Regions from separate parts of the Homo sapiens genome. Here region 2 is linked to region 1. A link means that fine-mapping ties the variant in region 1 to the expression of a gene that starts in the linked region. Tissue or cell type: tibial nerve. Region 1 holds a variant in brackets; the other region holds the start of a gene. All regions are shown on one strand. Distances are from middle to middle.

Region 1 (15,714 bases):
ACTAGAGTAGCACATTTTTTATAGTGAATGAACCAAGAATGACAATCCTTATCATCCAAAAGCCACAGTTTACATTATGTTCACTCTTGGTCTTGTCCATTCTATGGATCTTAACAACCAAATGATGACATGTATTCACCATTATGGTATCATGCAGAATAGTTTCACTGACCTAAAAATCCACTGTGCTTCACTCATTCATCCTTCCTCTCCCTTCTAACCTATGGAGATAGTAAAAAATTGATCTTTTTACTGTCTCTATAGTTTTGCCTTTTCCAGAATGTCATATAGTTGAAATTGTATAGTAACTAGCCTTTTCAGATTGGCTTCTTTTACATAGTAAAATACATTTAGGTTTCTTCCATGTTTTTTCATGGCTGAAAAGTTCATTTCTATTTAGCAATGAATAATATTCCATTATCTGGATGTATCAGTTTATCCATTCACCTACTCAAAGACATCTTGGTTACTTCAATGTTTTGACGAGTATGAATAAACCGACTACAAGCATTCACGTGCAGGTTTTTGTGTGGATGTAAGTTTTCAACTCATTTGGGTAAATACTAATGAGCACAACTGCTGCTTGGTATGTTAAGAGTGTCTAGCTTTCTAAGTAACTGCCCAACTGTCTTCCAAAGTGGCTGTATCATTTTGCATTTCCATTAGCAACAAATTTCCATGAGCAACAAATGAGAGTTCCTGTTACTCCAAATACTCATCAGCAGTTGGTACTGTACTGACCACGTTTTAAGTACTTAGCCACATACTGCTAATGGCTACCATATTGGACAGTCAAACAGAATATTTTCATCATTACACAAAATTTTAATGGAAAAGCTTGCTTAAAACTTTTTTTTTTTTTTTTTTTTTGAGATGGAGTTTCTCTCTTGTTGCCCAGGCTGGATGGAGTGCAATGGCACCATCTCAGCTCACTGCAACATCCGCCTCCTGGGTTCAAGCAATTCTCCTGCCTCAGCCTCCTGAGTAGCTGGGATTACAGGCACCCACCACCACACCCAGCTAATTTTTGTATTTTTAGTAGAGACAGGGTTTCACCATGTTGGCCAGGCTGGTCTCAAACTCCTGTCCTCAGGTGATCCACTCACCTCGGCCTCTCAAAGTGCTGGGATTACAGGCATGAGCCACCGCGCCCGGCCTCTCTGCTTAAAACTTAATTGGTTATACAGTAGGAAATGATGAACTAATATGACAGTGTTTTAACCTCTACATAAATCCATCTCTACTCCCACTGGATTTTGATGGTTCTTTGCTTATCTATATTTGCTCAGAAATTCAAATTCCTGCTCAGCCACTTCTTAACTGTGTGCCCATTAACATATTATTTAACCCCTCTGACTCTCAGTTTCTCATCCTAATTACTCATTAGTTTGGTACAAAGATTAAATTAGATAAGCAGGTAAGATAAATTACAACATTCATCATGTTACGCCCTCATTTGTAAACTCTTCTGGGTTAGAAGTTTGTTTTCTGAATGTTTCAGTTTCATACATTAAAGACCTTTATTAAAAGCAAAAGTATGTATTTACCTGGTCTGGATTTTTGTAACCCAAAAGTAGATTTGCTGCTTTTATATCACCATGAACATATTCATTTTCATGTATATATTCCAGTACATCCAACTGTGAAAATAAATAGATAAAATAAGGTTTACTGCTATTTAGAACTCATGATCAATTTCAACATTTTGAATATAGAATAACATGGGTTTTTTCATATTAACATTGACAAAGCGATGTATTTCACAATTACTGGTTAATTATTCTAAAATATCACATCTTCTGGTTGCTCATCCTAGAAAAAAGTAAAATGATCCTCAAAAATCAAGTATTTTAGTTGAAGTTCCAAAGGAAGAAAATCAAGATTCAAAAATGCTTATGCCTAATTCCTGATAGCCCAGTAGCCAAACCGCACTGCACAAAGAGGAAAAACATAGCATAAAATCAGAGATCTATGGTGAAATAATCTTGAAGCCCACTCAGCAATTCCTCACCTAAGCAATAATTATAAATCAAGCCTTGAGAATCTCAGAACAAAATGCCATGTCCATGAGCAAAGGGAAAGGTATTCTTCCTCTGTATGGTAATAGAAAACTCCTTAGCTTCATCTCTAAAGCCCTTCAGCCTTGCATGTTACATACACTTAGTACTCAATAAACATTTGCTGGCTTCGAGGATGGATAAATGAGAAAATTAATGCATTCTATTTGCTGCATTCCAATCTGGCATAAGCAGCTTCATGCTACTCAAAAGTGAAAAAATGAGACTTAAACAAACCAAATACAAACATATAAGACAAATATGTAGTATAAACAAATGTGTGCCTGAGTGCTATTAAGAGTTCGTTGCTTCTGCTTTGGCAAAGTATATTTTATTCATTGTCACAACTAATTATTGCCACCATCCCAAACTCATAATAAAAACTTCATAGCACCCCCCTACCATCACATGTTTAAAATGTCTGACAATATATTTTGCCATAATTTGCATTGTTATAACTGACAAAAGAAAGGTTATTCTTACAGCAATGAAAGCTTGTTCTGGTATGTAAAACAAAGCTCTAAGGAAAAAGAAGATCAGACTGGAGAACCAAAGCCTAATTGAGTTTGCAGTGCCATACACAGCACATTCTGTCACTTACAGAGCCCATTGTTATCAATTTCACCAAAATAGCCTCTACTCCTAATAACTGATGTCTCTAGGGCAATAATCCTTCATTCTCTAATAATTCCACAAAGGGAAAAGATTTCTATATTGCAAGAAGTAAACAATTTGGAAATGGAGCATGCGAAATAAGTAATTCTTACCATTCGGATACCTAATTGCAGGACAGTTGACTTTTTAAAGGTACCATTCTGGCCTGAGATCTTCTGTAAATCTATTCCTAGTCTTTCCATTACCATAAATCTGTAACTGTAAGAAAAAAGCATCAAAAAGAGATCATCCTGAGAAAGTAATGCTTGAAACTGTCTATTTAATTTGAAACAAGAAAAATTACGCTCAACCTAACAACTAAGTATAATGCAATCTAAACCATTAGAGAATGAATGCACGTTCATAATTCTGCTATTCTTTTGCAGAAACTGCTCAATATTTACTTTGCAGCTGATTTTCTATAAGAGAATGCTGTACTGAACCATTCACACTGTTTTACATAATGAAAAAATCTTTCTAAATTAGATAGTACTGAATGCAATTCATTTTGACTCCATGACTTTCTTGCCATATGGCCTTGAACAAATTATTGTACACACTTGATTTTTTTTTTGAGACAGAGTCCCGCTCTGTCACCAGGCTGGAGTGCAGTGGTGCAATCTCAGCTCACTGCAACCTCCACCTCCCAGGTTCAAGCGATTCTCCTGCCTCAGCCTCCCAAGTAGCTGGGACTGCAGGCATGCACCACCACACCCAGCTAATTTTTGTATTTTTAGTAGAGACGGGGTTTCACCATGTTGGCCAGGATGGTCTCGACCTCTTGACCTCATGATCCGCCTGCCTTAGCCTCTCAAAGTGCTGGGATTACAGGCATGAGCCACCGTGCCCAGCCACATGAATTTTATATTTGTTTGTTTCTTGATAAGATCATATATACCGTCTCTATACATTTATAAACATGTCTTTAAGTGCACTTCTTCCTTTTCTGTTCTGTTTGGCACCTTCCATACCTTCTTTCCTTCCCTTCATTTATATATCCACATCAGCCCCTATTCTATATCTATGCATGCATACACAAACACACACACTTAGGAATTTGTTTTACAAAAATGTGATCATATTATAAGTATTTTCTCCATCTTACTTTTTTCAATAGTATCTCATCAAAATCCTTCTAAGGCAACTAGTATAGCTCTAATGGACTTCTTTAATGGGCTACATATGACATGATATGGATGTATCATGATTCAATCAGCCATTCAGTCCCCCAGTGGCAGTCCTTTACTTCAAGATTACTGTTTGCTCATTTTTTTAAATTTAAAGCATTTAGAGACCATTTCAACAAAGTACTGACATCTGAGCTTATTCTCTCATCTATGGAATAAAAATAATATCACCTATTTTAACAGGCTATTCAAAGGACAAAATAAGATAAAGTATATAAAAGTCTCTGGCACAAAAGGGTAAATATAAAATGACACACTTTTTTTCTTTTTTCAAACACTATTAATAAATTATATATAGGACTAGCCATATTTGGTGGTTTTAAAGATATTTCTATAACTTATTTGTTGTGCTTCTCCTCAAGAGATAGAACTGAATTCTCCTCTCTCAGGACCAATGGATCTATCTAGTGACTAGCTTCTAGCAAAGAGAATAAAGCAGAAGCGATAATATCCCTTTTAAGATTAGATTACAAAAAACGATGACTTCCTTCTTGAATGCACTTGTGTGCATGCTCTCCCCGTCCCCCAATTAATTGCTCTAGAGAAAGCCAGCTATTTTTCATAACACTCAGGTAGCTTATGCAAAGACCCACATGATCAGGAAGTAAGAAGGCCTGCCAACAATCACATAAGTAAATTAGAAGTAGATCTTCTTAGGCCTACCAGTAGCCACATGAGGAACCCTGAAAACAAATACTTCCCCAGATGAGCCTTGAAATGAATGTAACCCAGCAGACAGCTGACTACATATCCTTATTAGAGATCCTGATCTAGAATCATACAGATAAGCCACTTGCAGTCTCCTCACTCACAGAAACTAAGACAATACAAGTTTGTGGTTATATGCCAATATGTTTTGGTAATTTGTTACATGGCAATAGTTAACTCATAGACCACATAAGGAATAGTTATAAAGAAATATTTGATTATAATAATTCCATTTTACCTTCTTCCCTTGAATTCAGTCAGACCAGATCCATAAAACAGAGGAATTCCTAAATAATCAAGTTGTTTGCGTTCTATCCACTTTTTGACTACAAAGACAAATTTATTTTTAAAAAGATTCATGTTATTTGAAAAGATACTTGTCACCTTTCTACAGACAAATTTATTTAGCTAACCAAAAAAGTAATTAGATCTTCCTAGAAGATAATTTTTTTTCAATCAAACATCTCTATCTAATGGCCTCAAACTGTTACCACTATAATTAACAAAAAATTAGAAATTTTTAAATTAAATCAATAAAAACAAGTCATAGGCTTTGTATATTGATACCATATATATTAATGTTTCAATCTATAAAAAGAATTCATTATCTTATATACTAGCTAAATTTCTAAATATAACATATGTTAACCACCAAAAGATCAGTAGAGAGATGGCTTTTTCTTCCCTATTACTTCAAGATTTAAAACCATAATGGACCAAAAAAAAAAAAAAAAGAAAAAAAAAGCAGAAATTGGGCAGAAAAACCATCTTACTTTGAAATTACTTTATACAAAAACTGGTTTTGATTAGTTTACAAAAAATCAAATCCACTTAAATAAAGTTAACTTTCATCATTTTTTTCATGACTCTAGCCTATGTTTTTTATGTTTAAGACAGCTCTACTGATAAACAATCAAGTTTAATGGATTCTATTTGTCACTGTGACATAGTTTAAGCAATTAGTAAAGATTACAGTCTTAATGTTTAGAAGACTTTATTAAGAAAAACTAAGTTAAATATTGAGGTCAGACCCATCACTCTTATTCTTAAACATGATGTAAAGGACCTTGACTATACAGTCATTACTCCTGTCTACTTCTTTAATGTTTTTCTTAGCCCATCTATATCACATTTATAAAATGCTGTTATTTTTCCTCTCTGCTTATATTCATTTCCCATTCAAGTCTTCTAACTGGTCATTCTTACACTTGGTATCCAGCTCCAATTAATTTTCCAGCATTCAAGTTTCTAACATTTTCTTAAACATCTTAAAGTTTAATCATTTTCACATTTCCACACACCTTGCCCCAATCCATTCTACAATCGTTCTTTTTTTATACATATATCTACTTCCCATTTTAATGTTTTTTCCTTATAGCCGTCCTATCCAAATGGTTTACTGTAAAAGAAATAATTTCATTCTACTATCTTTTACACTTAGGGAACTCTTGGTAGCTTAGATTAACAACCTAACATTTTATGTAAAGTAGTAGAAACAACTTTGACTTAAAATATATAACCCATTATGTATGTCATGTCAAGATTTGTATACCATCTGTCTTGCTTTTATATGTTGTAACAGTTAACTGTATCACTTTACAATAAAATTTCTATTGAAAAGAATTTTCCAGAAGGCCAGAAAAAGACCAAAATATCAACACTCACTTTAGCAAGCACATATATGGAAGTAGCTTGCTTTGCTAATTTTACTTACTACAGTCTTTTTTTGCAACTCTCTGATAAAATTTAAGTTCTGAAAATAACGGGCCATTTTCTTGATATTCCTATAAAAAAAAGAATAATTAATTTTACTAGAAAAAAATAATCCCAAAGATGGAATTGTTATTTCAACTGTGAAAATATGAACATATATATGTAGTATATAATAGTACTTGAATCACTTTTTATAAAACATAGGCACCAGATTTCCACTAAAAATCTCAGAAAACACTAAATAAACTTGAAGAATCTAATTTTTAAACGACATATTGTACCACTATCCCTATACAGTCTTACACATAAAAGTAGTTTTCTTACAGAGAACACTTACTAGAAGCACTGAGAACTGTATACATAAACATATACAACACTCACTGTATACCAACATATACATCCAGGTGATACACAGCAAACTCTCCTTGTGGTCCACTCACACATGATACCTTTACTGAATGGTCTACTATATTTCATTCATTATACTAGGTACAGGGGACACCAAAAAGAAATAAAACCCTATGCTTGCCTTTAAGGACCTTACCATCTTGATTAGAGAGGTGGAGAGGGTGGGAGGGCATTTGGGAGGGAAAGAGAAAGAATAGCTAGATAGATAACACACCAGGGTAATAGCTGGCAATACAGAAAAACAAAGGTTCTCCAGTTTTAATGTTTTAACAACGTCAAAACAGATGATAACATTAGGTTTACTGATAAGGCAATAGTTACAAAAATTAACGTGAAAAACATTCTTAAAGCAGAAAAGGAAAAAGTCAAATATATGTGAAATACAAATCTATGAGCAACACTTACCACTTTTACTACATGTCTTGCATCTTTCTCTGGTTTATTTGTGGGGAAAGCTGCAGACAAAAAAAACACACAATGGAGAAAAATAGTTATTCCCAATTACTGAATACCTACCATATCCCAAACACTATGCTAAGCATTTTACATATGTAAGTTTATTATGTCATCCCAACAACCTTTTATGGTAGTAGGAATCAATCATCTCCATTTTATACAAGATGCTACTGAAGTTTGAGACGTTGAATAAATTGCTCACTAAGAGGTAATATATTAGAGACAGAAACTCAAATCTGCCTGACATCACAGCCCATACACTTGATCATAAACCATATTTAAATATTTAAATACAGAATCAATAGACAATATGAATCATATAGATCCAAAATGTGGGGGGAAATATTTTATAGATATATGGCATTAAAGCCAATATATAATACACAGTAAAATCCATTGATTCAATTGCACTAAATTAGAACTCATAATGATTCAGAAATAAAAATCGATTCAATTTAAGTAGAAAGTTCAAAACAATTTATACTTGACAAAATTCTAGAACAAGCAAGGTTAAAATGAGAATAAAGTCTTTAAAAATTTCTTCTGAACCTGCTAATCAATTACTTTTACATTAAAGAATACATATCTCATAAATTCATTTCAAGTTACCTTACTTCATTTAATTCTTATTTTCCATTTGTTGTTCAGATGGTATAACCCTACTTTTAAAAACTCCAGTGTTCACATTTTAAAACAAATTAATCTTTTCCTCTACATTACCTAAATTATTAAAAGATTGTTTTCAAATCTCAATAAATTTACATGTATATTTATTTGTACTGCAAAAGACTAAAACTTCGTCATTTGTTCATTTGTTCACTCTCCATCCATTCATTCCTTTACTCATTTAAATAGCTAAAATATTTATCAAGAAGCTAGAATATGCCAGGCACTGTGTTAAGTGTCTGGATGATATCTGAAGGAAAGGGAAAGGAAAAAAGGTGGAACTAGTATTGACTACAATTGAAAATCAGTAAGAAACAGACTTGAGAACAGGATCAAATTCTTGAGATACAATATATTTTTATATATTCAATATATTTATTAAAATGCTGTGTCCTATTATTAACATTGTCCTTTTCTTTCTTCTAATTCTGTCAGCTGTTCTCTTTTTTCCATTAATTCACATCTTAGATATAAATATGTCACAAATTTTATTAAAATATATAAATTGTACATTACAGTTGAGCCAATCATACACAATTTTTTAACCATTCTCCAGTTTTTAATTATCAGTAATGCTACTAACCAGTTGAAGAAAGTATTATTTCAGTTCTAGCTAATATTAAATTGTAAACCCAGACCTCTTTACAATAACAAAGAAACTAAACTTACTTATAGCACTTAAAATTATCTTTTCGCCTTCATTCATGTTAAGTTATTTCATTTTTACCCATGCAATAGTCCCAAGGAAACTGCAGGAAGAGTGGATTAGCCAGATCTACTTTCTTCCAAGAAGAAAACTTAAGAAAGTATACACAGGGGACAGAGT[C/A]CAGTCTTGGTATAGAAGAAGTGGTGAGAAAACCTTTGTTCCCACCCTATGACAAACTATTTTACTAGTATGGTTTCCAAGGCTAAGGAGAAATATCCTGTTCCAACCTTGGCCCACATAAAACAGTACCTACTTTAGGCACTTGTCTTTGCTACCTGAGGTAGATGTCAGTAGAAAGTTTTGCCTCTTGTCTAAAAGCAAGTGACCACAGCAGCAAATAAATCTTTAAGCCCAACAGAATGTAATGAGCTAAAAAGTACAGAAGAAAATTGGGAGTTTCAAAAAGATAAATAACAGATTATGTTACCACTGGAAAAAAAAGATGTCCAACCAGTCCAAGGCCTGACTCCTTGCCTATTTCAATCATTATATCCCTAATACTTTATAATCTGAATTTTCCTTTCACATTTTGAATGAACATAATCATGTGTTGACACATACCTGAAAATCTCTACGGTCATCACTTGATAGCTACACAATATTCTCTATAAGCTTCCAAGTCAGATTATATTGGAGGGTCTAAGTCTAAAATCAATAGACTAGAAAGCTCTTAGAGACGGGTGCTTCATATGAACAAAGAGATTGTTCTGGTTACCACGGGGGTCTTTTTATAGTAGAATAAATATTCAATTAATAAAACAATTATTTTCTACTGTAAGCCAAGCCCCATTATAGCTAGTGAAATTAAATGACGAAACACACACACACACACACACACACACACACACACACACACACGGACATGGTATATGCTTTTGCTGTCTGGTGGAGAAATCTAAGATGTCTTGGATTATAAGATGCATCATTAAATACATGTTCATCAAATACTCATACACAAATGTAAAACTGCAATCTAGAATACGGTAGACTGAAAACATTGACAAAAACAATACACAATGTAGAAAAAACATAATCAGAGTTAAAATGCTATAATGCCCTTGAGTTATCCAAAAAAGTAGGAAAGTGATTAACCTTACAGTTTGTTAAATAGAATGAATACCTTGAAATTTTAAGGGTAAATGCTAAAATAACAGAGGTTCATAACTCCAAAATCAGTAGAGGAGCAAAGAAGATAACAAAGAACATCTAAACAATTTAATAGATGGCAAGAAAAAAAGGTTTAAAGAAAAAGAAAACACAGTTAGAATAAATAAAAAAATACAAAATATGATAAAATTTAAAATACCAGAATAAATCAATTTTTAGCCATACATTTTTTCATATGTTAACATCTCTGAAATCTGAATGCATCTTAAAAGTGATGACATCTTACAGCTGCTGTTGAACACACACAGTTATGACACAGTTTTTATTGCTTATGCACACACACACTCAATCCTGTCTGTCCATTTGTCTTTACTTAACTGAGTTATGTACATAGCTGATAGTATTACATGTGGAGTTTAACTTAATGATTTGGCACTGAGAAGAAAAATTCTTGTGTATGTAGAAAAGGTAATTAACCAGACCAAAACAGAGCAGCAGGCCATGAATTTGATATCAATGAAAAAAATGTTTATTAAGATATGACTGCAACAATTGAGTATTCTGAGTTCCTTAAGTAAGACAAAGTTTAAGGGTATTCTGTCATAGTTTAATGGGCAGCATTAGGTATTAGATCTAAATCAGGTCCTACAGAAACACAAAAGAAATTACACAAGAGGAAGTAACAATTCTGAATTTTTTAAGCATCTAATATGGGCTGCACATATGTACATAATATCTTAGATTTGATTACATATGTCAGTAATTATAATAAATTTAATAAACTTAAATACACTAAGTTCACCAGCTGAAGAAATAAACTGTCAGACTGCTAAAAATATAAATGTATTTATAAGAGACAAACCTAGAATCTAGTGATGCAGAGGAACAAAGTAAAAATATAGAAAATAAATTAATAAGTACAAACTAACTTTAAAAGACTAGAACAAATATTTTCAAAACCAAATAAATCTCAGGAAAAAAGAATGATTAGATATGAACTTAGTCTAACCTAATCACAAAAGGAATGGTGCAACAGAAAGATAATAATTATGAACTTGAAATCATCTAAAAATGTAATTCAAAATACATGTCAAAAACTAGCAGAATAACAGGAAAAAAAATTAACAACATTGCAACAAAAATAGTGAAAGATTTTAATACAGTCCCATAATGTATAGGCAAGCAGACAATAAATACATTGAAACAATGCAATTAAGTTTTTTCTCTACATGCCAGATTTTTAAAAACACTAATAATTAAAAACATTCTTTTCAAACCCATCTAAAATATTTTTTTAAACTGTCCATATTTTCACCCAGAAAACAAGTCTCAACAAATACCAAGGCATATTATTAAAGCTACGTTCTCTGGGGAAAAAGGAAATCACAATGGAAATCAGAAAATAGATAGGACTGAATACTAAAAATATCATATAAAAACTAGTTAGAATGCAGTTAAAATGTGTTTTTATTACTTGTCTTCCTCTGCTAGAATGTAAACTCCACAAATAAAGAAATATTTTTGCTTTATTCAGATGTGTTCCAAGCACCTAAAATAGAGCCTCAGGCATGTATTAAATATTTGGTGAATAAATTAACAAATAAAAAAGTTACCTGGAGAAAAATTTATAGCACTAAATATTTTGATTTTAAGAAAACTAAAAAATTAGTGAGCTAAGTGCTCCCCTTAATAACTTAGAAAAATGATGACATAAATAGAAATTAATAAGAAACTGAAAAGGCCTACAGGAATAATCTCTCAGTAGAAATGAGGACACCTAGCAACCATATTATGGCTTCTAAATATCATTTTCAATGAAATGAATCAGGGCTCCTTGGAGAAATGGCTGATTCCAGAGTTGAGACAGAGAAAATAAAACTAAGCAAATTAAGCAATAAAATTTATAATATTAAGTTGGTGCAAAAGTAATCACGGTTTTGCCATTGAAAGTAATCATGACTGCTTTTGTGCCATCCTAATACTAATGAACTGTAACCCATAGGAAAAAAAATCCATTGTCTACTGATTTAAGTAAATAAATAAACAAATAAATGAGAGAGTTGATACAGCTCTTTCCTGCAGCTGAAATAAATTAATAAATATAAATTAAGATATGTAGAAGAAATGATAAAAATAGAAAATCATCATTTGGCAAATGTCACAGTAATAATTGGGGCAAGTAATAATTGGGGCAAGTCGTTAATAGATATTAAAACAGATAGGCAAATGGATGATTAAAAGCAACATAATGCAAATACATTCAATGTCTTCCCACAAGACACTTATTAATTGTAAATGGAAAATAATGAATTTATGGCAGGCTAACCTGGCAAATATCACTTTAATTATTAAAAGGGATCAAAGTTAATGTCACTAATAATGATATACAATAAATCATGCACCTACTGATAGTACTGGGAGAAGCAAAATATCATTTCTATGATATTCTTACTAAATAACACATAATCTGAATTTAAAGCAAACCCAAATTGAAGGACATTCTACAAAATACTAGCTGGTACTCTTCAAAAGTGTCAACCTCTTTGCAAATCACCTAAGAGGTAAATATACAGAATATATAAATAACTCCTATAACCCAACATCAACAAAAGTCCAGTTTAAAAATGGGCAAAATCAGCTCAGTGCAGTGGCTCATGCCTGTAATCCAAGCACTTGGGAGGCCGAGGCAGGCAGACTGCCTGAGCCCAGGAGTTTAAGACCAGTTTGGGCAACACAGAGTTACCCTTTCTCTAAAATAATAAAAAATGGGCAAAATACTTGAACAGCTATTTCTCTAAAGATACATACGAGTGGCCAACTTGCATATGAAAACATGCTCAACACCACTAATCATTAGAAAAACGCAAATCAAAACCACAATATCACCCCCTATCCATTAGGATGGCTACTATAAAAACAAACAAAATTTGTTTTAAATTTTGAAAATAACAGATGCTGGCAAGGATGCACAGAAATTGGAACTCTTGTGCACCGTTGATGGGATCATAAAATTACCCCATCACTATAAAAAATGGTATGGCGGCTCCTCAAAAAAATAAATAAAATTACCATATGATCTAGCAATCCCATTTCTGGGTATGTATTGAAAATAATTAAAAGTAAGATCCTGAAGAAATACATGCACACCCATGCTCATAGCAGCATTACAGACAATTAGCCAAAAGTAGAAGCAACCCAAATGGCCATGGACAGATAATTAAACAAAAGGTGGCATATACTTGGAATGGAACATTAATCAACCTTTAAAAAGAAGGAAATCATGTCACATGCTACAACATAAATGAACCTTGAGGACATTAGGCTAAGTAAAATAAGCCACACCACACACAAAAAGACAAATACTATATGATTCTACATTTATGAGGTATCTAGAGTAGTTAAATTCATAGAAACAAAAAAGTAGAATGCTGGTTTCCAGGTGCTGGGAAAAGAGGAAAATGGAGAATTACTGTTTAATGAATATAGAGTTTCAGTACTGCAAAATGGGAACATTCTGGAGATCTGCTGCACAACAATGTGAATATACTTAACACTACTGAACTGTATATACAAACACAGTTTTAAAAATTCTGCAGCCTTACGGGCTACCAAAGACAAGGATTCTGAAAGAGGGCAAGCTAAGAAGCTATCACATTGGCCTGAGAAGAAAAAGAGTTCTGTCCAAGAAATGACAAAACTATGTTGCCAGCTATCTCTTTGCTGGAAGTATAGAGACATCTAGGGAGTTAACAATACTTAGACAAATTTCCATGCATGAAGAAGGAAGAGCAACAGAATTCTACATGGTATTGTTGGCCTTATCCCACTAACAACAGAACTCTACAGTAAATTGTGGCAGTACGCACATTATTTTTCAATAGGAAGAAGAATCACTAGGATAAGTTCAAGAGAACTGCCAGAGAGGGTATGGAAGGATGTGATGAAGTGAGAAGTCTCCCAGAAAATTACTATGCTTTGATTATTATGGAAATATCTTTAGTTTAAGAGTGGTCACTTTTGGGGGCCAGATGACACTTCTAATCCCATTTAAACACCCAAAAATATATTTAAAGAAGGTTAAAAAAAAAATGGAGGAGACGCTTAGAGGTATAGGTTCTTTGCAGCCTAGTCTAACTTTTTCTAAGAGACAGAAGAATAACTCACCTACACAGATTGTGGGTAGGGGGCAGGAATTCTTCAGATAAGACTGGTCAATCAATTAGGATTTAGGAAAAATATCCTGAGACAACAAAGGCCTAGGATCAATTCAACAAATTAAGAATCCGAGGACTTGTGTGGAGGAAATCATGATTCAATGAACTGATAGGGTGTTCTAGGTTCTACACAATGTTTGTCCTTTGTATTTCAAGTTCTGCTTACACTAAGGTATTTAAAGCCTATAAAGAAAATATTTCAATAAATAATTTAGAGGAGAAAAAAAAGAGCGCTAAGCTCATAAAAGACAAAAAAAGATTGAAGAATTTTCCCAAAGGGAGTTACAGAGACAATGATAACTACACATATTGTGTCATCTTGGATTTTGAACCAAAAAAGGACATTAGTAGGAGAACTGGCAAAATTTTAATGAAGTATATAAATAGGTTAATAGTATTGTATCAATGCTAATTTTCTGGTGTTGATAACTATGTAATGTACTATGTGCTATTTTATAATATATCACCATTTAGGGCAGTCGAGTAGAGAATATGGAAACATTCTTTTTTTGCAAGCTCTTTAAAATTTAAAAATTAAAAGTTACAAAATAAAATTTTAAAGTATAAAAACAAACAAAATAGGTGATATTCAAGATTTCTCTTTAAAAAGGTAACAATCCTCTTACAAAATTGTGCGAGTACTGGAAAGAGAGCAAAACCATAGATGTGCATGAGATTTTGAAAAAAACTAATGATAAACACTATCATCTGTAAACTTAAAAACTTAGAAAAAATGACAATTTCCTAGAAAAAAATATAATTTACCAAAATAATTCAAAAAATAAAAAACCTAAATAGAAATATAATCATTAAAGGAAACAAATCAGTATTTCAAAAAAATGTAGACAGTCCTCAACTTACAATGGTCAACAGGGTTTTTCTACTTTACAATGGTGAAAAAGCACTGTGCATTCAGTAGAAATCATACTTCGAATTTTTAAATTTTGAACTTTTCTCAAGCTAGTGATATGAGGTATGATACTCTTACAAGAGATACTCAACACTTTATTAGAAAATAGGCTTTGTGTTAGATGATTTTGCCCAATTGTAGGCTAATAAAAGTGTTCTGAGCACATTTAAGGTAGGCTAGGGTAAACTATGATGTTTAGTAGGCTAGATGTATTAAATGCCTTACTGACTTACAATAATTTCAATTTATGATGGACTTATGAGGACATAACCCCACTGTAAGGAGCATCTGTACAGATAAGATGGAGTAGGAACACTCAACTGTAGCTCTCCCACTGAAAACAGCTATAAAATATAGACCAAAAAAAAAAAAAAAAAAGAAGACAGTAGCTATTAGAAGGCTCTTAAAAAGTAAAGAGAGGTTTCCACTCAACATATTAAGAGCTTGGAGGTCCTTACTCCTGTCTTCTTAAGGGGGAGAAAAAAGAAAAAAACTGAACAATCTGAAAATCAACAGCTTTTCTTTAATCCATCAGAGAACTGAGGTTACAAGGCAAATCAGTGCCCAAAAACTGGAAAGACAAGTGAATACAGAGAATCACATCTTATTGGGGCAGAGTTTTACTATAAGCCCTCCATGTTCTCACAGTGAATATCAGAAAAATCTCCTGTTTCCAGCAGGGGAAGGGAAACTACTTTGCCAGAACCTAATCAACATGGGAGAAGAAAAATAACCACTCCAGCCTCTTCTAGCTTTCCTATCTCACCTAAGTAGGGTACAGGAAGCTGAGAAATACTGGTGAAGGTCACATCCTGGGGCATAGGCCCCCCACCAAAAAAATAGGTTTATACTTATCATTAGGTAAATCCAAATCAAAAACACAAGATACCATCTTGTACCAGTCAGGATGACTATTATTAAAAAGTCA
Region 2 (15,714 bases), 36 kb after region 1:
GTCCATGTGATGGAGCTATCAGGGACAAACATTCTAAAGAAATACTAATTGCAAAATCAAGTATCTAAGTAGTATAAAAACCATAAATGCCTTTAAGTGTAGATGATGAAGAAATTTTCATCATCCAAGTAGCTAATTTCTAATGAGCTCTCTCATTTAGAGCTTTAAAGTTTCTTAATTTTCTTCTCATTTATCTGATATAGATATTCCTGTGTCTTAAAAGAAGAAACACACCTCATACTATTTATTCCTCTTCTTCCTTATCTAAAGAAAAAAACCTAAAACACTTCAGAAGCAGAAGTCTATCCATATTTCATAAGGAAGCCAGAGCTCTCAAAAGCTGAGAATTCTTTTATTGTGTGGCAATAGAGGTGAGCTCATTTCAGGAAGAAGAAATTTCCCCACAGCAATATGTTTCAAATTAAAAAAAAAAAACCTTGACCACTGTAAACAGTTACAAGATAGTAACAGGTCCAGTGGAAGAGACATAATATATAAATGCACTGAAGAATAGAGTATTTTATAAATCTTCCCTTAAGGCAAAAGAATTTGACAGTAAAATGTTGAAAATAAAGAAGAACCATAATATAAAATATGCTTAAAAATGGATATTTAAAAAAATGAAAAAGCCAAGCAAAAGCCAAGTCTTATAAATCTCCCTTTTAATGGAAGGAACCCAAACTTTCTTAAACACCCAGATTTCTTAACTGATAGATAACTGGGTACTGCTATCTCTTTAAAAACTCAAAATTTAAATATAAACAAAATTAAAATACATCTTATAGAGACTTTTATTTCTTGTCTGTAAGTCCAACAAACGTATTAAATTTACAAAACTCCAAGTGATTCCTTCCCTGTTTTGAGTTTATATTACCTATTATTTATACCTTCTGGAGACTAATTTATCATAAACACTATAGTTTCTAGTCCAAATTATTCTCATTTTCACATTTATTCAATTCTTCTCTTCACTCCCACAGTATCATTTGCAAAATTGCCTAATAACAATTGCAGTGGCACCACAACGTTGCATTGTGTCAGATAAGGCTATTTATCTCAAAGCTCTCTATAAACACTACCAAAATAACACTTAATAATGTAATATGTAATGAAGCAATATGTATTCCAACACACTACTTTGTTGCTAGTATTATCACTGGGCTCTTCTAAACTTTATTCTGCATACCTTAAAATCAATCTATTATAGCTCACTATTTATAAAGAAAATAAAAAATTATTTTATGAAGAAGTAAAAACATTCTATGTATGTGGTTTATATTTACTTGTTTTAAATATAAATGTTTCCTTATCAGTAAAATAAATGATTTAAACTTTGGTAATTTCTAAAAACCTATCCGCCAACAAAAGATTCCTTCTATGTTTCTGAAGTACAAAATTAGGCTAATCCGACAACATGATCCAAAAATGTCTGGCAGTCACTTTGATGAAATTTAAACATCTGTCCATGGATAAATGATCTGATTTTCAGGCTTCACCACAGTTAACTTTAGTTATAATAATGTGTTATTCTTTATAAAAGCTTTGAGATAGTATCTTTATAAAAGATATTGCTACTGATGTCCTGTCAATAAAGCACATGCACATTCTTTTAGATGATGTCATGATAGGTGCCTTGTCTCAACTTTCCTGGTGACTAAGGATACTAATCTGCAGTAGATCGAAGAGTGACATCTATAATTATGGAAGAGAACAAAGCAAACTAGCTTGTGTGGGTTAAGTACTCCAATCTCAGTCTCAATTTCTCAGGCAAATAACTGTTGAACATCTATTCTGTGCTTGACACTCCAAAGATGCTAAATGGTCATCACTATGCCACCTTCAAAAAACTAAAACTGCTACAGATAAATCATATCTTTTACTTACATAATCAGCCTTCAAAAGAATGTGGCTAAAGTTTATCCTGTAATTCTGTTATTCTCAATTTTGAATAATTTCTGAAACCAATAGCTTTAATATCTGAGGCAGATTAAATACAGCTTATATGAGAACTTTTCACTACTATAGCAAATTTTAGGGGGAGCTTTTATCAGTTAGTAAAATGTCATAAAGTCTTATGCTGACATTCTCTATGTTCTCAGTTTTACCACATTAGTAGTTAAATCCACCAAAATTCATAGTAGAATAAATAGAAAATCCACCCTTCCAATGGAGTTCTTTGTCATCATCTTAATCCACTATGGCAGCATTTTTTTTTTTTTTTTTTTGAGACAGTCTCACTCCGTCACCTAAGCTAGAATGCAGTGGTGCAATCTTGGCTCACTGCAACCTCCTCCTCCCAGGTTCAAGCAATTCTCATGCCACAGCCTCCTGAGTACTGGGACTACACACACACATTACCACAACCAGCTAATTTTTTGTGTTTTAGTAGAGATGGGGTTTCACCAAGTTGCCCAGGCTGGATGGAGCTCAGGCAATCCACCCGCCTGGGCCTTCCAAAGTGCTAGGATTACTGGCATGAGCCACTGTGCCTGGCCCCACTATGGCACCAGTATTAAGAATGGGAAAGTCTATGGAAATAAATAACTAAATTACATTTATTAAATGCTTACCAAGTTCCTTAAAAAAATCTCATTTAATTCTCCTCACAATTATTATTATCACAATTATGCAGAATAGAAACAACCCAAAGGATTAAGTAACTAGATGAATAAGTGGCTTCATCAGGTCAGGATTCAGGTCAGATATGCCTAATGCCAAAACCTCTGCTATTATTTATGCAATTCTCCCGTAATTTACTTGGTTCTGTGTTATACCCAGCATTATAGTAAAATTCTAACCCTCAGTTTTCTCTCCTTCCTGATATTTAAAAAACTTTTTCATTCATTTGATACTAAAATGACAGCAATTTTTCCCATCCCCTAAACCAGTTTCCTTTCTTCCTTTTTCCTCCCCTTCTCTTTTCATATTCAAAGAAAGAACTTTGACTTTGTTCTTGTATTCAGACTTTTCTTTTCACTCTTTTAGCTATTTCTTATTAATGCTAGAGGCACATTATTTCTCCAAGTCAAGAGTAAATACCAAACTTCTCTGCCCCTTCCCCTTAACTGTAAGCTGCTGATTACCGAAAGGCCCTGGCTACTGATCTCAAAGCTAGAGGACAGTTGTACATGTACAATGAGCTAGACAGAGCAGCTAGTTTCTTCTCAGCCTTAGGCAGTAAACGCTGATCAAGTGTCTGCTGAAAGAGGGTATCTGGAAAGAATCGAAATGAATGTCACTGGACACAAAAGTATTCAGGAAAATTTGAATTTTACTGCTTCTTCTCTTCATTTATATAGAGGAAGTGATGAGAACCATGATAAAATGCAAAAACATGATGTAATTTCATATTGATTTGTTTGTATAGCTTTGAAAATAGTAAAAACTAAGTTTAGTGAAATTAAACTGATTCTATGATTCATTAGCATCACTTTTAATGGAACAGTTACAACATTTGGAACACACATCTTTATTATAAATTCTGAAGTACTGGAGCCTTTTTTCTGAAAATAGCTAAATATTTCTTTAAAGTCCTTCCTCAGTGGTGTGTACTTGCTAATCTTCCTAGGTAGGGTCCAGGTTCTAAAGTTCAGATACTAGAGAATGTTCCCTTACATATTGAACCCTGAAAATATATTGTAAAACAAACAGTATTATTTTGGTAATAAAAAAAAATAAGTAGGCTGGGCACAGTGGCTCACGTCTGTAATCCCAACACTTCGGGAGGCCGAGGTGGGCAGATCACCTGAGGTCAGGAGTTCGAGACCATCCTGGCCAATATGGCAAAACCCCGTTTCTACTAAAAATACAAAAATTAGCCAGGCAGGGTGGCAGGTGCCTGTAGTCCCAGATGCTTGGGAGGTTGAGGCATGAGAATTGCTTGAACCTAGGAGGTGGAGGTTGCAGTGGGCCGAGATTGAGCCACTGCACTCCAGCCTGGGTGACAGAGCGAGACTCTGTCTCAAAAAAAAAAAAAGTAAAAATATGTGACACTGTACTAGACTGAAAGAAGCAAATATTTTTCTGCATTTGAATAGGGACAAGTAAGTCACATGCCTATGCAAGTATATTCCTTTATCATAACAGTAACAATAGTGACTATGTGTACACATAGATACATACAGGTATACAGACATACACTATTTAATCTTAAACATTCACTTGAATTTAAATACATATAATATTTACATTTCAAGAAAATCAAAGAGATAAAATCAACACATCAATACTTTTCTCTAGTTCTTTGAAATTACTCAAATAATACAAATATTAGAAAACCAAAAGTGATAAGCTATGGAATTCAAGGCTATAGCTCAGCCACATCAGAAATAATTTATTCAACACTATATCTCAACCTTGAGTCAAGACAGTATACTAGAGATCTTAACTCTTTGCTGTAAAAGAGAATTCACTAAGTTCAAGTTTCAAACAATACTTATCCTCACATAGTCTTTATTTGCACTATTCTATACAGCAGCCACATGTAGTTACTGAGCATATGAGCCACATGGGCTAACTGGGCTCTTGAGACTAGATACACCTTGGATTTTGAAGACTTTCATTTAAAAAAGTAAAATATTTCATTTGTTTATGTTGAGAGCATATTGAAATAATATTTTTGATATACTAGATTAAATATTATTAAAATAATTTCACCTGTTTCTTTTAACGTATTTTAATGTGGCTCCTAGAAAATTTTAAACTACATATGTAACTTGTATTACATTTCTATTGAACAGTGTTGACTATGTCATTCAATCTAGCACTTAATAACCATAGTATTTTTTCAAGCAATTTCAAGCAAGTTCAAACCCTTTAAATGGGTCCTTTACTTGACTCATACAATTTTTTGTGCTGATCTTGTCTTTCCAACTAGAATAGACACTTAAGTATTTAATAAGCAGATATTTATTGACCAAACTTCATTCATTCATTCATTCAAAACTACAATCTTAATTTTATCAGAAGAGGATCTTTTATATTTCAGGATCCATGAAGCATGTTTTTCTGGAAATATGTGATGAGAACCCAAGATTCCCTCAACGGAGGTATTTTATCAACTCCTTAATCTCCTATAGAAATAGATGTGATCTCAAGTCTCAAGTGAGTACATTTAGGAGAATTTATCCTTGAGGGTATATTTTTAAAAATCACTACTATTTTCCTTATTTTATTAATCAATCTTTTAATGGATATCCCCTCCTCATTCCAACTCAATGATCCATTAAAGTTCAGTGTAATTTTTAAATGCTTAAATGCAATGTAAAGGCCTATCCAGCCCATGGTTCCTTACCTGTACCACAGATCACAGAAAATAATTTTGAGTGTTTATTTTTTCAATTATCCCAAGAATGGCACATCCCTAGGGACCACTCTAGATGCACGAGAGAGAAGTTAATTCATTTCACAGAATAGATGCCTTAAGTTTTATCTATGAATTCTCCAGTAGAGCCCAATTAAGAAATGACTAGACTCTTGTATTGCCTAAATATTGATTAAGATTCACAAACAGAAAGTGTTTTTATCTATACAGTTGTGGTTTCTCATCTGAAAAAAGCATGTTTCTAAGAAAACAAGCTCTCAAAAAAAAAGAAAGTTAGCATTTTGTCTGGCAGATTGTATAATTATGCTCTAAAAAGACTTCTAAGATTTACTCAGAAAAACATGGACAACAAGGAGTGGGTCAGTGATGTCTTGAACCTAGACACTGTACTCTATTATTACTTAATCGAGTACAATCATGAATTTTAATAAAGTACACATATGAATTCCATATTTCCATTCTTAAAATACCACTAAGTAATCACGGTTACAGTCACAGATATAAGAATAATTGTTAATTTAAGGTTTTACTTTACCTAAATATATCAATCCAAATCCTCCAGAGCCAATCTTCTTGCCCAGTACCCACTGATTGCCTTCCATATCATCCAGAACCTTGCCTTCTGGAAATGGAATAGGAAGTTTGTATTTTTCATTTCTTTTTGGTGGCATCACTTCTGTTGGCAGAAGGGGTGAGATAAATGGGTAAAAAGAAAAACAAACAAACAAAACTCTTAAAATACACTTCCCAAAATGTCTTCAATAGGGAACTTTCCCAGGTTCCCAGAAATTAGGATTCTAAAGTTAATTCAGTTTGGAAAAGCCCACACATTATATTCAAATTAGAAATTCACATACATTACAATACTGAGATCTAAGAGGTATAGATATTTTAAAAAAACAGAAGCAAACTAACCAAATTTCATCCAAAATTCATTTCGGGGTTCTATAGCACATATTAACAGTGCAGGACACACCTTAAGAAACACGAAATTAACAATTTCCAATGAAGAAAGAAAATAAATTTCATGTACATGGAAATATTGCTGTCACTGAGAATGTAAAATGTTAAAAGTGAGAAGGTCTTCAGTCACTAGAAAAGAACACAGGATTGGATTGGGAAGACACAGACAATGGCAATGGACATCTCACCACCGTGATACTAGGTACTCAGTAAACATTTGTTAAATGAGCCAGGGATTTTCACGGATATGTAACTTAGCAGAATACTAGGCCATCAGTTCTCGGGCTGCCAAAATATTCTCAGCATTTTGTCTTCTTACCCTCTTTCTCAGTTTATCACAGTGAAAACAGTCCTGCCTTAGAGATTACAACTGTGCCACCAACAACAAAAGCATAATCTCCACAGCACAGCCATGCAACTTTAATCAACTAATTATAATTGTACATAGGTTAGCAAATTTCTCAATGGGAAATTCTGAGTTAAAAGAGAAAATTTCTTAGGGGAAAATACATATGCCAGCATACATGCCTGAAAATAATTTAAATGTGAAGGTAACCATGATCCTCTAAGTATTTAAAACTATTAAGAGTTTCTGACATGAAAGTTAATTAAAAACGTATATACGTAAATGTAAAGTTTTCTTAATATAATCTTCCTAGCTTCCATAAAAGAAAGTATCTGTTTTTCCTTTAACGGGTTTTTCCTCCTTCACTTAACTGCTTTTTTACTTAGCAGTATTGTCCCAGGTAGAGTCGCTGCGTGTATCTTTAACAATATTCACCTTCCTCCTGATAGGCACACAAGGGCTGGGAATTTGGATGGTGAACTATGCCTAGAGCATTGATTGTATCATAAAGCAGGAAAAGTTTTTGTGGAGGTTTCCCTTGACCAGTACATTATATAGGCTGGTGCCTATTACAGATTTACTGATTTAAAACTTAAAGTCTCCAAAGTGTAAACTACTGATTAAGGAATAAATTCTAAATAATTATAAAAAAGATAAATACACTTTGGGGCAAGGCAGCGGCCTCAGGGCTTGAGGCGGTAAGGGAGACTCTACGAAATGTACATCCTGGGGGCGAGTCCCGAGTTCATCTGCCAAGGGAAACGACAGCCTCTCAGGGCCCGTCCCTGTCAGGGGTGTCCCTTCGGCTTCTGGGTACCTTCCCAGGGCTAAGATGAGTCCTCAACACGAGTTTCCGAGCAAACTGGTACCCAGGGGTTAACATGTGCCTGGGCTGACCTCCAACCCCGCCGCGGCCCCTGACCCTGCGGAAGGTAACGAGAAGCAGCGCGGCCCAGCCGCCTGGTCCGTCCGCCCTTAGCACGCCGGGGACCTACGGCCAACCCCGCGCCCCAACTTCCCGCCACAAGTTCTCTCTGCACCGGCAAAAAGAGAAACTCCACCCACTTTTCCGCTAACACGTCGGACCCGCTTTTGGCAAACGTGAGTAGAAGGGGACGCCTTGTTCTCACTCCCAGCGGGGAAAAAAGAACCAAACGCGGAAGCAGCGACTCTGCCCGGGCCGGAGCTGAGGCCCGGGGGCTGGGACGGCCCGGAGTCCCCGGCATCTAACTCCGACGGCAGCCCTTTTCCGAGCGGGGCCGCGGCTCCGGCACTGCAAGCGGAGGTGCCGCCCGCCACCCAAGACCCCAGAGCAAGAGACTGACCGGGCCTCAGGATCCCCCGTCGCCGGGCCGCGCGCACCGCCTCCTACCTGCCGCTGCGACGAGGCGGAGCCCCCGGGCCTACAGTCCCGCGGGGAGGCGGGCCCAGCACTCGAGCCTGCCCTCCCTAGGACCTGCCTAACTTCTCTCCAGCTGCGTCGGCCTCGCAGTGCAGCGGCCCGCGGAGCCTCACACAGGCCGCAGCCGGTTCCTTTCAGCGGCCTGTCCACGCCCCGGAGACGCCCAGGGGAAGGAGAGGGCGCGGCTACATGGGGAATGGGAGCTGTGTTACTACCTCCACCCTGGCCCGCCAGCGTCTGGACGAAGAACCGCCGCCAGACCAGTTTGGTACGAAATAAGCACGACATGCATTTGTGTAGGAGTGTTAGATCTCCTGTACCACAACCTGAGTACTACGAGCTTCCAAATGGCTAGTCCTTACCGAGCTCTCGCCGAGCAACTAACTATTGGTACTAGCGAAGACTCCAGTTAGGAGGGCCTGTATGTAACTCACCGCGTTTAAGTTCTCAAAGGCATATTGGTTCAGGACCTATTTCTGCCATTAATCGTAGGATAATTTAACACCGTAATTAACAAACTTCAGGTTTTTTTGTCTGTGAAATGGAAATAACCCTTGTTGTTAGATTATAAGGTTATTGGTTATAAGATTATGACAATAAGGTGAGGACTTTATTAAGCAGTTTTCTAATACATAAAGACTCATAGTGGCCAGGTGCGGTGGCTCACGCCTGTACTCCCAGCACGTTGGGAGGCCGAGGCGGGTGGATCATCTGAGGTCAGGAGTTTGAGACCAGCCTGGCCAACATGGTGAAACCCTATCTCTACTAAAAATACAAAAAATTAGCCAGGCGTGGTGGCGGACGCCTGTAATCCCAGCTACTCGGCAGGCTGAGGTAGGAGAAGCGCTTGAACCCAGGAAGCAGAGATTGCAGTGAGCAGAGAGCGCGCCACTGCACCCCAGCCTGGGCAGCAAGAGGGAAACTCAGTCTCGAAGGAAAGAAAAAAAAGACTCATAGTAAGCTTATATTTTAGACTAAACCAAACAAATGCTTAGACAAAGATTATTAATACGTCAGCATTCTACATAGTAACCACCAATAATTGGTTGGGATACAAATACTGAAAGGAAAATTAGAGCCCTTTAATGACTTTGATAGAATAAGGAATTGGGGCTCCCTACATCTTTCAGACTGTCACCAAAATGAAAGATGGCATGAGAAGACGTTTCTAAAAACAAACAAAAAAGTATTTTTAAAGAAACAGTCCATAGAATAATTGTGCCCTTAGTCATTCACTGGTCCAACAGTGTCCTTTCTTATTTTCTTAAGATATTTATATAACAGATGCATAATTACAGATATTTATGTAACAGATGCATAATAATCCTAATATCCATATTGGGTACTCTTTCCTCCTTTCCAAATTTGTTTAGCTTTCCACCACTTCCCCGGCTCCCTTTTGAGAAGAAACAACTCCAGTAGCAACCACAGCAGATTACTTGTAGGTGGTTCCTCTCCCTACAGGCATGTATCCAGTGTTAGTAAATCCTGTTGGCTCAACCTTCAAAATACATCCAGCATCTATCACTTAGCACCCTTACCTGCATTCTGGCCCAAACCATATTTTTTCTCTAGGTAATTGTATTACCCTCCTAAATGTTTTATACCCTCTTATCCCTTTAGTCTGTTCACAGCAAGCAGCCACATGATCCTTAACGCTTAAATAATTACTGAGCTTAAAACAATTCAGTGTTATTCCAATTTACTCACAATTAGCCAGTCTTCGCTATGACTTTAAACAGCATTTCTCAACCTGGGCACTATTGACAGTCAGCCTGGATAATTCTTTGTTGGGGGTTTGGGAGAAGGAGGAGGATTGAGAGATAGGCTGTCCTGTGCATTGTAGGATATTTAGCAGTATCCCTGGTCTCCTCAGCACTCCCTCCCACACAAGTTAACAACCAAAATATCCCCCAACATGACGAAATTTTGCCAAAATTGCCAGTCGTTGAAAAGAACACTGATCTACCTATTATGCACTCCCACTCCCCAATGTCCTATTACTCTCTTCAACCACAGTGGCCTGCTGTTCTCAAGAACTTTTCGCATTTACTGCCACCTGGACCACTCTCCAACCTGGTATCCGTATAGACTGCTCCATCACTTCCTTCAGGTCTTTATTTAAAAGTCAGTTCAGTGAGACCTTTCCTAAACATCCTATCTGAAATTTCAGCTCACCCACAATATTTCGTAGCCTCTTTCCCTGTATTTTTCCCAGTACCTACTGCTATACAGCAATATATTATACAGTTTATTATTTATTTTGACAAAAGACAATCTTTTTCAGTAAATTGTATGTTTCATGAGGTCAGGCAACATTTTTGCCTGTTTTCGTCACTACTGTATCCCCAACCCCTAGAAAGGATATGGGCAACCATTTCCTTCTTCAATGAATAAATGAACCATGCTGGCCCCATTCCAATTCCCATGATTGGTTTAGACAGTACAAAATAAGCATGTGCTGAGTCTAGGTAACGAGGTGAAAAGAAGTTTGCTGGACACATTCTTGGAAGAGATAGTCTCTGATGTGATGGTTAAAATGGCTGCAGTCATCGTGTGACCACAAAGATGGGAAAAAGTACTAATCTAAAGCCCCAGGAATGGCAGAATATTCAACAAATGTTAGAACAGCTAGACATCCATATATACAAAAAAAAGAAGAAAGAAAGAAACCTCAACCCTTAATTCACACCCCATGTAAAAATTTACTTGAAACTGATCATACAGCTAAATCTAAATACAAGATCTAAATCTCAAACTTTTTAGAGAAAACCTAGCAGAAACTCTATATAATCTTTAAATGTGTGCACTTATAAAGTATAAAAAATTTAAAAGCTGGAAACCTAAAAGAAGAAATTGACAATTTAACTTCATCAAAATGAAAAACTTTTGCTTTTCAAAAAATACTAATAAGTTACCAAGGATTTGGAACAACTTGGAACTCTCTTATATTGCTGTTGATGGTACAGCCACTCTGGAAAACAGTTTGGCAGGTTCTTATAGTGTCAAACATATAATTAACATACAACCCAGCATTCGCATATTTACCCAAGATAAATCTAAACCTGTATCCACACAAAGACTTGTAGGGGAATCTTTAGAGCAGCTTCATATGTGATAGCCAAAACTGGAAATAAATTTCCATCAACTGGTGAATGAATAAGCAAATTATACTATATCTACTATACAATGAACTATCACTCAGCAATAAAAAGGAGCAAAGCACCAATACAGTCAACAAGCTGGATGAATATCAAAAACACAATGCTATGTAAAAGAAGACACAAAGGAGTATATATAATATAATAATTTATTCGAAATCGAAGAGCTGGGATTGACTGCAAGGAGCTGAAACGTTGCAAATGTTAAATTTCTTTACTGTGGTAATAGATACATTATTATACATTTGTCAAAATTCCTCTAGTTATACACTTAAAATTGAATTATATATAAATTATGCCTTAATAAAATCGATTTAAAAGAATGGCAAAAGAGAAAGATAGGAAGATCCTGAGTCTTTGAGGCCATTATTGAACTACTAATTCAACTAATCCTGAACCACCATATTTTCATATTCATCCATGAAGTGTTAAGTGTTCTTATGATTTAAACCACTTAGCATTGGTTTTTATATTTCTTGCAGCCAAAATCTTCCTAACAGTAAAATAAAGTTTCAAGTTTCATAAGTGCCAATGATTTTTAAATGTTAATAAATTTGTACTAAATAAAAATGGCAACAGGAGCAGGTAAACCTATATTGAGAATATGTGTTTTTTTTAAGTGTTGGGATTTAATGCAGAATTTTATGATTCAGAGCATATTGCTGTGTGTATGTTTCAAGATGAAAACTGACAGAATATAGAAATACAAATTTTGGAACTAGTGAAAGAACATCTTCTGAATGAACATGATGAGAAACAAGAAAGAAAAGAGAATCTAGACATGAAAGCAGTGAAGTGTGAGTCATCAGAAAAAAAATATGGGGAAAACTAGGTTTTCAAACAAAGCTATTTTGATAGATCTTACAGGCTATGAATGATTCACCACAAATACACGCACACAAAAGGACTTTCTTGGCTGTATGCCAACTTGTAGGTATGGCATGCGTTCTGCTTTTCAAAGAACTGGGTGCTATAAAATGCTTACACTGGTTAAAAAGAAAAAGAAAAACCCAACCATTTAGTAAGCATACTTTACAAGGCCAAGATCATTTCAAATCAATTAAAATGTTAAAGATGATGCATAGACAAAACATTCAGAAAAAGCCAATTTTTGTTATTTAAAGTGAGATAAGGAGATCATATCAGTGAACGTGTTTTGCCTGCCAAAGAAGAGCTAGTATTTTTGTTCTGTAAAAATCAGGAGGCCATTTGCACTCATAAACTTACAATCTCTAAACAGCTAAGCAGTTCCTGACATAGAAATTTTGAAATTAATAATTTTGAAAATAATAGAATTCAGGTAAATGGAATTCCAAGCCCATTAGATAAACAATCAGACCAAGTATCTATGTCCTCTGCATTCTTTACATATAAGATCATTACAAAGTATAAACTTAATCATCCAAATGACATAATTCTTCATTGTCTATATAAATGAAGAATTAGAATATTAAAAATAATTTAAAATGTCATATCAATATGTCATGTAAACCAAAAAGTATCTGAGATAAGTCTCAATCAATTTAGAAGTTTCTTTTGCCAAGGTTAAGGACATGCCCGGGATACAGCCTCAGGAGGTCCTGAGAACATGTGCCCAGGATGGTTGGGCTACAGTTTGGTTTCGTATGTTTTAGGGAGACAGAAGACGTCAATCGATACTTGTAAAATGTACATTGGTTCAGTCTGGAAAGGCCCGACAGCTTGAAAGGGGGGTAGGAGGGGGGAGTTCCAGGTCATAGGTGGATTCAAAGATTTTCTGAGTTTATCTAAAGACCTGGAATCAGCAGAAAGGAATATCTGGGTTAAGATAAGGGGTTGTGGAGACCAAGGGTATTAGTTTACTGATGGAGCCTCCAGGTAGCAGGCTTCAGAGAGAATAGACTTTAAATGTTTCTTATCAGACTTAAAAAGATGCCAGATTCTTAGTTAATTCTCTTCTGGATCAGGAAAAAGACTTGGAAAGGGAAGGGGATTCTCTACAGAATGTAGATTTTTTCCACAAGAGAATGTTTGCAGGGCCATTTCAAAACATGTCAAAGAAATATATTTGGGGATAAACTGCTTCATTTTTTTTCAGGGCCTGGTATCTGTCATGTTGGTATCTTATTGCTACAAAAAGTCTGTCTCGTCAGTCCAAAGGTCTGTGCTTTAATATTAATGCTGGTCAGTTGTGTGGGAATTTCAAAGGGCAGAGGGTATGCATACCCAACCACCCATTTCCATCATGGCCTGAACTGGTGTTTCCAGTTAACTTTGGAATGTCCTTGGCTGAAAAGAGGGGTCCATTCAGTTAGTTCGGGGGCTTAGAATTTTATTTTTCATTTATAGTCAAAAGGCTCAATAAAAAATTTTTAAGCATATTAATTTGTAGAACCCTGCTGCCAAACAAAATGTAAATGTAAATATGTATCAGATTATCTCTCAAACAATTGAATGTAGTAAACCAAATATTGACTAGCCAAAAGTGGTATGATTCTTACCCTGTCCATTCCCCAAATACGAGCACCATAAAAGGTTAACTATAAGACTATATTTACACTCTACATCCTTTTTCCCCCCCAGTTAACATCCCTGCAGTAACCAAAAACATGAGCTGGATAAGGAGGAGAAGAGGAGCTGGCCGAATGATTTTTAAGCAGAAGCTGAATGTTCAATAAGAATAGAGTTGACACCTTCAGAGGAGAAGTAAGAAATAGTTTTCCTGTGTGTCATGTAAGTCATGTTTTTAGGCTTACCTTTCATGCAATTGCAACAACATCCTCTAAGGGTCTTGAACGAACCTTCTATTCCCCAAATATTCCTGACCATTCCCAATGACTATCTCAGATGTGCTCCATCACTTTGTCTCTCCTACTGTGAACCTTTTGGTTGGTATCTACTGTTGACACATAGCTTACCTAATGAACTAGGTGGAAGTATCTGGCTAATGTTGCTAGCTGCCTTCTTCCACACAGCTCTATCTCTGACATTCTGTAGCTTGCAAGGCATCAAAATGGACCTGGATTTTCTGCAGCCCTTAAGACACTTAAACCAAGTTGTGGTCCACACAGAAGCAAAGGCTTCTCTTGTCGCTTTGGGTCACAATTTCTCTTACTGCTTTACTACTTCCACTACAGGGGCTAACAAATGTTTTAATGTAAACAGTGTATTTAGGTTTTCCTCTAAGTCTCACTGCCAATTTCAGGACCTAAGCATGCAGTTGGGAGCTAGTGGACACGACAAGTGAAAGATATTATGTTATATTCAGATTTATTTTTCTTTAGATATCATAAAAGTAATTGGACAAACCTAGTCTTCCTGACTTCCCCTTCTGTTACCTGTTATATTGAGTTATCTCACTGAAGACTCCTTGTTATTTCAGGCAAATACACTCAGATGTCTGTGGATCTAGAAATGAGTGAAAAATATAGATTCCAGCTGAGAGATACACAATTATCAAATTCCTTAAGATATACCAATATTTAAATCTATTTATTATAAAATACATGCTTATCTGGGGAACATAGCGAGACCCTGTCTCTACCAAAAATTATTAATAAAAAGTAAAAAAAATTAGCCAGGTGTGGTAGTGTGTGCCTGTATTCCCAGCTACTCAGAAGGCTGAGGTGGGAGGATTGGGAGCCTGGGAGATTGAGGCTGCAGTGAGCTATGATCACAACACTACTCCAGCCTGGGCAACAGAGTGAGACTCTGTCTCAAAAATAAAAATAAAAATAAAAATAAAAAATAAATAAAAATAAAATACATGCTTATAGTAAATATTTAAGAAAATATCAAGAAGTAATTATAGAGGGGGAATTGCCCATAAAAAATTTTTAAAAATACTCTCTGTTAACATTTTAGTGCATTTCCTTTTAGTGTTTTATTTTTTATCCCGTAAAAGGTTTTAGGTTATATGCTTTCCACAGTTATACTCAAATTGTGTGTATATAATATTTTTATTCTGCTTTTTTCAATTAACAGTATAACAAACACATTTTCCCCCTCTCCAGTCATCAGTCATGATCCCCCATCCTTAAACAATTAGTCACTAAATCCTGAGTCTTTAATATGCTTATTGGGGTAATGAGTTGGGGAAAGACAAGGAGTGATCTCAGGAAGCCAGGAAATTCATATTGAAATAAAAAGAAATGCTAGGGAGAAAAATAATTAAGAAGGCTAGAGGAGAAACAGAAAAGACAAGAATTCAATCCTATTGGATGTAGGAGAAATTTTTAGGGAATAAGGAGAGAGGAATATGAAAGTTTTTTGTGGAGAACAGCTGCTCTGAGATAACTGAGACTGAAAGAGAAAGAAAAAGAGCATTTTTAAGAGTTGAATGTACTTCCCCTTTTGGCAATGTTGTGAGGAAGTGCAATTAGGATGCACATTGCTTTCGGTTATCTTTGGCTGCAGGAGAGTTGTTTCTTGGAATATGATCCTATGTGAGGATCTTTTCAAAATGAGGGTATAAACTGGCCAGGATGATGTAGGTTGTATAATAGCTTTTAAAATTGTTTTATTTTTACGTAAATCAGAT

Direction of the effects. Positions count from the first base shown, and alleles are read on the strand shown. Sizes are in standard deviations (SD) of each study's normalised expression.
For the expression in tibial nerve of the gene that starts at base 8,020 in region 2, A is the low allele of the variant in region 1 and C is the other (small effect, 0.22 SD a copy in GTEx).

Evidence for each region. PIP is the estimated chance that this variant, and not a neighbour inherited with it, causes the effect.
Region 2: it holds the start of VRK2, and the variant in region 1 is fine-mapped to the expression of VRK2 in tibial nerve (GTEx, PIP above 0.99). The same link has a PIP of 0.9 or more in skeletal muscle.

The regions. Positions count from the first base shown.
Region 1 is chr2:58,075,557-58,091,270 of GRCh38, reverse strand. It overlaps VRK2 (VRK serine/threonine kinase 2), which reads right to left. Exons shown (of 13, transcript NM_006296.7): 3 at 7,133-7,182; 4 at 6,321-6,390; 5 at 4,845-4,932; 6 at 2,825-2,930; 7 at 1,548-1,640. Among named protein-coding and RNA genes, the nearest start is that of VRK2, 37 kb to the right of the region's middle. The variant C/A (reference allele first, on the strand shown) is at 8,676.
Region 2 is chr2:58,039,112-58,054,825 of GRCh38, reverse strand. VRK2 (VRK serine/threonine kinase 2) reads right to left here and starts at 8,020. Exons shown (of 13, transcript NM_006296.7): 1 at 7,958-8,020; 2 at 5,859-5,999. The coding sequence starts at 5,994. LOC107984043 (formin-2-like) reads left to right here and starts at 7,593. Exons shown (of 3, transcript NR_171623.1): 1 at 7,593-8,302; 2 at 13,273-13,334; 3 at 13,758-14,750. RefSeq lists a silencer at 7,768-8,037 and enhancers at 7,641-8,196, 8,188-8,307, 8,197-8,752, 15,594-15,643.